Homo sapiens: one gene and its partner. The protein of the gene in region 1 purifies or fractionates together with the protein of each later gene. This does not show direct contact. Each region holds a gene or a part of one and is shown on either strand. Other genes may lie near its edges. The genes, in order: PGC and CCNT1.

The links.
Region 2: the proteins of PGC (region 1) and CCNT1 purify together in Homo sapiens (affinity purification with western blotting, with the first as the bait; one study listed by BioGRID). This does not show direct contact.

What each region holds. Positions count from the first base shown.
Region 1 is NC_000006.12:41,744,585-41,748,910, reverse strand, and holds the start of PGC (gastricsin isoform 1 preproprotein), read left to right. Parts: upstream 1-1,513; 5' UTR 1,514-1,576; coding exon 1,577-1,635; intron 1,636-4,102; coding exon 4,103-4,253; intron 4,254-4,326. UniProt on the Homo sapiens protein: Hydrolyzes a variety of proteins.
Region 2 is NC_000012.12:48,692,472-48,696,284, reverse strand, and holds part of CCNT1 (cyclin-T1), read left to right. Parts: intron 1-46; exon of another isoform or gene 47-122; coding exon 123-286; intron 287-455; coding exon 456-526; intron 527-1,848; coding exon 1,849-3,252; 3' UTR 3,253-3,813. UniProt on the Homo sapiens protein: Regulatory subunit of the cyclin-dependent kinase pair (CDK9/cyclin-T1) complex, also called positive transcription elongation factor B (P-TEFb), which facilitates the transition from abortive to productive elongation by phosphorylating the CTD (C-terminal domain) of the large subunit of RNA polymerase II (RNA Pol II).

The DNA of each region.
Region 1 (4,326 bases):
CAGGTAGGGACCTCCCTCTCTGTGCCAGGCCCAGCTGACTTCTAGTCCTCCCTCCCCTCCCCCATTATAAGGCTTGGGGAAGCTCCAGGGCTCTGGCTGGGCAGTGGGTAGCAGTGGCTAGAGTGGAAAATCCCCCACCAGCTGGATGATATCAGTGTTTACAGATCTGGTCCTGGCCTTCTGCCTGGGGCCTGAGGACCTGACAAATCTGCCTGGAGCCCTGAGTGTGGGGTACGAGGTCGCAGAGAGGCTATTGGCACGGGGATTTTTTTCCCACTCACTCCAAAATGGAGAGCTGTCCTGGGCCAGGTGAGCAGGCACTGGGCCAGCTCCAGGTCACCTCAGGCAATGGGAAGCTGGTAGCTGGGAAGTGGGGTGGGAGTTGGGGGAGGTGGGGGAGGGGGTGCCGAGATGAGGGATAGAGGAACTAACAAATCAGACTTGGGGGCTGCACAAGGGCTTGGGAGTGGGTCATGGGAGACATAGGCACTTTAGGAGAACTGAAGACAGAAGCAGGGACGCAGCGGGGCAGAAGAGAGAACGAGGAACAGCAGCAGGGCGCAGGCCTGTCCCTCTTCATATGCCCCTGCTCCAGGCCTCTGATCTAGGTCGGTACAAGAGGCACAACCAGAAGCTGGTGTGGCTTACTCTGTGAGTGTGTCCTGAGCATTTGCTGAATTATGACAAGCATTTCTCCAAATGTCCTGTTTGACCTTGAAAGCCTCTGAAGCTGCTCAAATAGCTGTGACTTCAGCCATTGTCATCCCAGCCCCACCACCAGCACCAGAACTCCCGACACTGCCATCAGCACCACCCTCACCATCACCATCATTGTAACCAGCATCCTAGCTACTAGCTACTGACCTCTTGACCCCCTGACACCCCTATCTCCTCCCCTGAGGGTTTGAGGGTGCTAGGAGTTAGGAGTGGAGTCAAAGCTTCAAGTACATAACCTAGAGACAAGCAGTTCTCAATGATTTTGCCCATCCAGAAGACACTTAGCAGTGCCTGGAGATATATTTGGTTGGCACAATGGGTGGACTGCTCCTGGCATCGAGTCGGTAGATGCCAGGAATGCTGTTAAACATTCTATAGTACACAGGATGGGGCCCACAACAAAGAACTATTTGTTCCAAAATGTCGACAGCACTGAGGTTGCGAAACCCTGGCTATAGATCCTATCTATCCCAGCACTCTGCCTCTACCTTTTTCTGGCCCTCGTCCCTAAATGCACACATTATGCCTCTGGTTTGGGAACAAGACGTAATCTTCACCACTCCATCTTACGGCAACTTTCTCTCTTATCGCTTGCACCTCCTGGCCTCCGATGCTTGAACCAAAAAGTCAATAAGATGAAAGTCTGTTGCGGCCACCCTCAAGAAGGAAAAATACACAGAAACGATACACGAAGCACAGGGTACACCCTGGGTTGAGGTCATGGCTGCCCAGGGCAGGGAGGCAGCGATTAGACTAATCTTGGGCGTATAAAAGAGGAAAGAGTGCCCAGGTCTTCACTCCACTGCGACTGCAGAACTCAGAGCTGCTCTTCCTCTGTGGCCAGTTGGGGACCAGCATCATGAAGTGGATGGTGGTGGTCTTGGTCTGCCTCCAGCTCTTGGAGGCAGCAGTGGTCAAGTGAGTCTGGGATCTGGCTGCTGGTGCAGGGAGCCTGGATGGGAGCCTAAAGCCCTGCAAAGGGCAACTGGGCCAGGGGACACCCTGCCTGTCTCTACTCTGGGACTTCTGCTAGGGGAAGGGAAGTCTCCCTTTGCTGATGTTAGACAGGACACATGGGTGGAAGGAGACACAGCCCCTGCCTTCAGGAAACTTCCTATCAAAGGGAAAAGCACGATCCCTTCCCCCATCTGATGAGGAAAGATGGACCTGAAACAGAGGTGGTAAGGGTGACTACTGCCCAAGCAGCCCTTGAATGGCAGGTGTGGATTCTTCTCACAGAAGGGAGCAATCCTTTTTGGATAAGGGATATCTTATCCACTATCCTCTCTAAAAGTTGCTTTAAGGCTGAAAATTTACTGGCAGATGCCAAAATCATCTAAGCAGAAACACCAGTAAATGTAAATCTCTACACCTGAGGGGTCAGGAGAAAACTCTGGAGTAGATGGCATGGCTCACAGGCCATCAGGAAGGCGCCCAGCCTGCCATCCTGCCTGTTATTTCTCTACCCAAGAGTACTTCCTGAGGCCAAGAGCTGGCTCCTCTCAGAAACTCCTATCAATATGCATATTTGGTAGAGGTGGTTAATTAGTCTTCATAGCTCAGGGTGAAGGGGTTTAGCAGAGAATTTCTGGAGAATGCAGAGTCCCCAGGGAATGGGGATTAAGCAGAATTCTGGAGCCTAGAGCAAGGCCAGAGTGGACCCCTAGAGACTCCCAAGCAATGGCAGCAAGCAAGTCTGGGAAGGAGAGTGCCGAGGGTGTGACTGAGCCCATAGGATGGGACAGAAACGGTGATTTATAAGTTCCAACTCCAGAGCTGATCTGTGCTCCAGACCACCCAGGCCAACTTCCCGTGGTCCTGGTGTCCTGAGAGGAGCAGTGATGGGGCCTAGGCCATGCGATTAGCAGCTGGGACAGAACTAGGACTCTGTGTCCTGAGTCCCAGCTAGTGCTGTTGCCGTTGCTCCATGCTCTGTCACATCCAGCTGGTGCCAGGTGCCTGAGGGCTGCCGTAGAAAGGAACTCTGGGGTGAACTTTGCCATCTCTGAAATCTTCTTTGTTTTTTTTTTTGAAACAGAACTTCGCTCTTGTTGCCCAGGCTGCAGTGCAATGGCGCGATCTCGGCTCACTGAAACCTCTGCCTCCCAGGTTCAAGCGATTCTCCCACCTCAGCCTCCCGAGTAGCTAGGATTACAGGCATGCGCCACCATGCCCGGCTAATTTTGTAATTTTAGTAGAGATGGGTTTTCACCATCTTGGCCAGTCTGGTCTCGAACTCCTGACCTCAAGTGATCCACCCGCCTCGGCCTCCCAAAGTGCTGGGATTACAGGCGTGAGCTACCGTGCCTGGCCTGAAATCTTCTGTTAAAAATGTGCATTTCCTGGGCTGGGCGCAGTGGCTCACGCCTGTAATCCTAGCACTTTAGGAGGCCAAGGCGGGCGGATCATTTGAGGTCGGGAGTTTGAGACCAGCCTGACCAACATAGAGAAACCCTATCTCTACTAAAAATACAAAATTAGCTGGGCATGGTGGCCCTTGCCTGTAATCCCAGCTACTCAGGAGGCTGAGGCAGAAGAATAGCTTGAACTCGGGAGGTGGAAGTTGAGGTGAGCCGAGATCAAGCCATTGCACTCCAGCCTGGGCAACAAGAGCGAAACTCTGTCTCAAAAAAAAAAAAAAAAACTACATATCCTGGGCCAGGTGCGGTGGCTCACACCTGTAATGCCAGCACTTTGGGAGGCCTAGGCAGGCGAGTCACGAGGTCAGGAGATCAAGACCAGCCTGGCCAACATAGTGAAACCCTGTCTCTGCTAAAGATACAAAAAATTAGCCAGGCATGGTGACAGGCGCCTGTAATTCCAGCTACTCGGGAGGCTGAGGCAGGAGAATTTTCTGAACCCAGGAGGTAGAGGTTGCAGTGAGCGGAGATTGTGCCATTGCACTCTAGCCTGGGTGACAAAAGTGAAACTGCGTCTCAAAAAAAAAAAAGTACATATCCTGAAAAGGGTAAAGCCTAAAGTCCCTCTTCCTTTCCTGGGGAGGAATCTATGGGATATTTGACAGCAAAGGGCCAGGGAGATAGGAGGACCCTTGAGATGAGGTGAGGAGTGCATGCATGGTGAAATGAATGGTTTTCTGAATCTTAGAGCAAGTGCTGAGAAGAGCTTTGTAAGAAAGAGGGGAAGAGGCAAAGGGAGGAAGAAACACGCGCGCGCGCACACACACACACACACACAGAGAGACAGACAGACAGAGACAGAGAGCAAAAGGCTGAGAGAGAGAAAAAGACACACACAGACAAGGGGGAACAAACAGAGTGGCAGGGAGGTTGAAGCATGCAGTTAAGAGAAGGAGAGAGAGAAAGAGAGGAGTGGGAAGAGAGGAAGGAGGGAGGGCCTTGCCTCATATGCAACCTTTCTGTAGAGTGCCCCTGAAGAAATTTAAGTCTATCCGTGAGACCATGAAGGAGAAGGGCTTGCTGGGGGAGTTCCTGAGGACCCACAAGTATGATCCTGCTTGGAAGTACCGCTTTGGTGACCTCAGCGTGACCTACGAGCCCATGGCCTACATGGATGTGAGTCCTGACCCTTTCTGGCGGTAGCCTTCTCTCTGGTGTGGGCTGGAGGGAAGGGGCAGGTCCCTTCACT
Region 2 (3,813 bases), on another chromosome or scaffold:
CCTGTCTATTTTTAAGCCTTTTTTTTTTTTTTTTTTTTTTTTTTTAAATAATGGAGAGTTTTAGCTTTGGGCTGAGAATTGAGAGCTCATGACACTCTCTGTTTTCTTCCCTCTGATGTCAGCCTGCATTTGACCACATTTAGCCTGCAGTACACACCTCCTGTGGTGGCCTGTGTCTGCATTCACCTGGCTTGCAAGTGGTCCAATTGGGAGATCCCAGTCTCAACTGACGGGAAGCACTGGTGGGAGTATGTTGACGCCACTGTGACCTTGGAACTTTTAGATGGTAAGTTTTAGAGTAAGGGACCTTGAAAAGCACTTGCTGTTGATCTGTCACATAGCTGGCCAAAGGTGACTTGATTCAGATGAAAATAGTTAGTTAGTAGTTCAGGTTATTCTTGTTTCATTACTTCTGTTTCTCTCAGTCTTTCTTGAATGTTCTGTTTTACTTGTAGAACTGACACATGAGTTTCTACAGATTTTGGAGAAAACTCCCAACAGGCTCAAACGCATTTGGAATTGGAGGGTAAGAATCATTACTGTCAGCTTGTGGAACAAAATCAATTTCTTTTGACTGCACCAGTGAATATACCAGTATTGAATATGTACCCTAGGTTTGGAATTGCCCTTTTTATAGTTACACAGTAATCATGACTTCTACTTCATACCTTGGATACTGTTGTAAAAGTCAGTGTCTCTATGGGATAGCAGGATTTGCTTTTCATTGTGTAACTCCTGTGATATGATCATTTGAGCAGTAACACTGGTTCAGTATTTTCTGTGTGGAAACTGGTAGGGAAAAAACATGGCTTCTCGGAGTTAGAGTATTGGCTTCTGGTAGAGGCAAGATAGAGAATTACAAGGTTAGAGCCGGTATCACAGTTTTGTGTTTGACATTACCTACTTTTAAAATGGATTTTAGAATTTTGTTTTTATATAGGCTGTAGTCTGAAGTTGTATTTCAAATACTTGTCAAAGCCTTATTCAGGAATAATGGAATCATTCCTTTTTTTTCTGTCAGATATAAAACTTGTTTTAAAATGTTTCCATTGTTTTCTCCTAAATCCAGACAGAAAAAGTTAATTTCATTCTCCTGAGTTGAGTGAGTGGCAGAGAGTGAGTTTGCCTCTTAGAAGCCTGAGATTAGAAGTAGGCTTGAGAGGCCGGGCATGGTGGCTCATGCCTGTAGTCCCAGCACTTTGGGAGGCCAAGGCAGGCGGATCAACTGAGGTCAGGAGTTCGAGACCAGCCTGGCCAACATGGTGAAACCTCGTCTCTACTAAAAATACAAAAATTAGCCAGGCATGGTGATGCACACCTGTAGTTCCAGCTACTTGGGAGGCTGAGACAGGAGAATCGCTTGAACTCGGGACGTTAGGTTGCAGTGAGCCGAGATTGTGCCACTGCACTCCAGCCTGGATGACAAAGTGAGACTCTGTCTCAAACAAACAAACAAACAAAAAACAACAGTAACAACAAAAAAGAAGTAGGCTTGAGAGCACATCTTTTACTTTAGCATAAAACCTCACCAAAATTTCTAGAACTCAGTTATGGACTAACTATAATCATAAGCGAAGGCATGGATGTTCATGTATGAATTTTAGATAAGCATAGATTCTTTGTTGTTATTATTGCTTTGTAACGTTTGGATAGATTGCTGTGACTCTTAATTGAAGGTTTTAAAATCTTCTCTTGATGGTAATATTTATTGGATTACATGTTAGGATAGCCTCCTGCCTGTGGCCTATCCAGAACTTCCAGTGTTGCTGCAAGTACAATCTACTCATCTCAGTGTTTTTTTATTTAGTAAATTACCTAAGTAAAGAGATGCTATTTGCTTCATTGCAGGCATGCGAGGCTGCCAAGAAAACAAAAGCAGATGACCGAGGAACAGATGAAAAGACTTCAGAGCAGACAATCCTCAATATGATTTCCCAGAGCTCTTCAGACACAACCATTGCAGGTTTAATGAGCATGTCAACTTCTACCACAAGTGCAGTGCCTTCCCTGCCAGTCTCCGAAGAGTCATCCAGCAACTTAACCAGTGTGGAGATGTTGCCGGGCAAGCGTTGGCTGTCCTCCCAACCTTCTTTCAAACTAGAACCTACTCAGGGTCATCGGACTAGTGAGAATTTAGCACTTACAGGAGTTGATCATTCCTTACCACAGGATGGTTCAAATGCATTTATTTCCCAGAAGCAGAATAGTAAGAGTGTGCCATCAGCTAAAGTGTCACTGAAAGAATACCGCGCGAAGCATGCAGAAGAATTGGCTGCCCAGAAGAGGCAACTGGAGAACATGGAAGCCAATGTGAAGTCACAATATGCATATGCTGCCCAGAATCTCCTTTCTCATCATGATAGCCATTCTTCAGTCATTCTAAAAATGCCCATAGAGGGTTCAGAAAACCCCGAGCGGCCTTTTCTGGAAAAGGCTGACAAAACAGCTCTCAAAATGAGAATCCCAGTGGCAGGTGGAGATAAAGCTGCGTCTTCAAAACCAGAGGAGATAAAAATGCGCATAAAAGTCCATGCTGCAGCTGATAAGCACAATTCTGTAGAGGACAGTGTTACAAAGAGCCGAGAGCACAAAGAAAAGCACAAGACTCACCCATCTAATCATCATCATCATCATAATCACCACTCACACAAGCACTCTCATTCCCAACTTCCAGTTGGTACTGGGAACAAACGTCCTGGTGATCCAAAACATAGTAGCCAGACAAGCAACTTAGCACATAAAACCTATAGCTTGTCTAGTTCTTTTTCCTCTTCCAGTTCTACTCGTAAAAGGGGACCCTCTGAAGAGACTGGAGGGGCTGTGTTTGATCATCCAGCCAAGATTGCCAAGAGTACTAAATCCTCTTCCCTAAATTTCTCCTTCCCTTCACTTCCTACAATGGGTCAGATGCCTGGGCATAGCTCAGACACAAGTGGCCTTTCCTTTTCACAGCCCAGCTGTAAAACTCGTGTCCCTCATTCGAAACTGGATAAAGGGCCCACTGGGGCCAATGGTCACAACACGACCCAGACAATAGACTATCAAGACACTGTGAATATGCTTCACTCCCTGCTCAGTGCCCAGGGTGTTCAGCCCACTCAGCCCACTGCATTTGAATTTGTTCGTCCTTATAGTGACTATCTGAATCCTCGGTCTGGTGGAATCTCCTCGAGATCTGGCAATACAGACAAACCCCGGCCACCACCTCTGCCATCAGAACCTCCTCCACCACTTCCACCCCTTCCTAAGTAAAAAAAGAAAAAGAAGAGGAGAAAAAAACTTCTTTAAAAAAACACATAATTTTTCTTTTTTTTTTTTGGACTAAGAAAATTACTTATGAAATATGTCATCCTTGGACTAGGGAATAAATTGATATTGAGACATAGTTAGGAGGGTGGTAGAAGGCCTTGGCTATATATCTGCTGTCTCATGCATTTAACTATTTTCTTACAGTTTTTACTGGTATTAGAGAGGTGTTGAAGCTGTGAAGGATTAAGGACACATTCTGAATTCTTGGCCTCTCCACCATCTAATTAGGTTGATTGGAGTTGATATCTTCCCTCTTCTTGCCAGAGCTGAAAAATGGAGGGTTTCTTGTATCAGACAATTGTGGATCCTTTCGGTGTTTAATATATCAGAAGAGAGGAAGTATTTAAACGTCAAATCTTTTAATAGACTTAATAATTTAAAGAAAGTAAGTTATCTGTTTAGTTTTTTTATATAATTGGGAAGGGGATAGGGATTTTGCTGTGTGTATATGATACATAGCAGTAACTCCTGGTGGGTGGGATTGGAGGGTGGGAATGTGTGAGG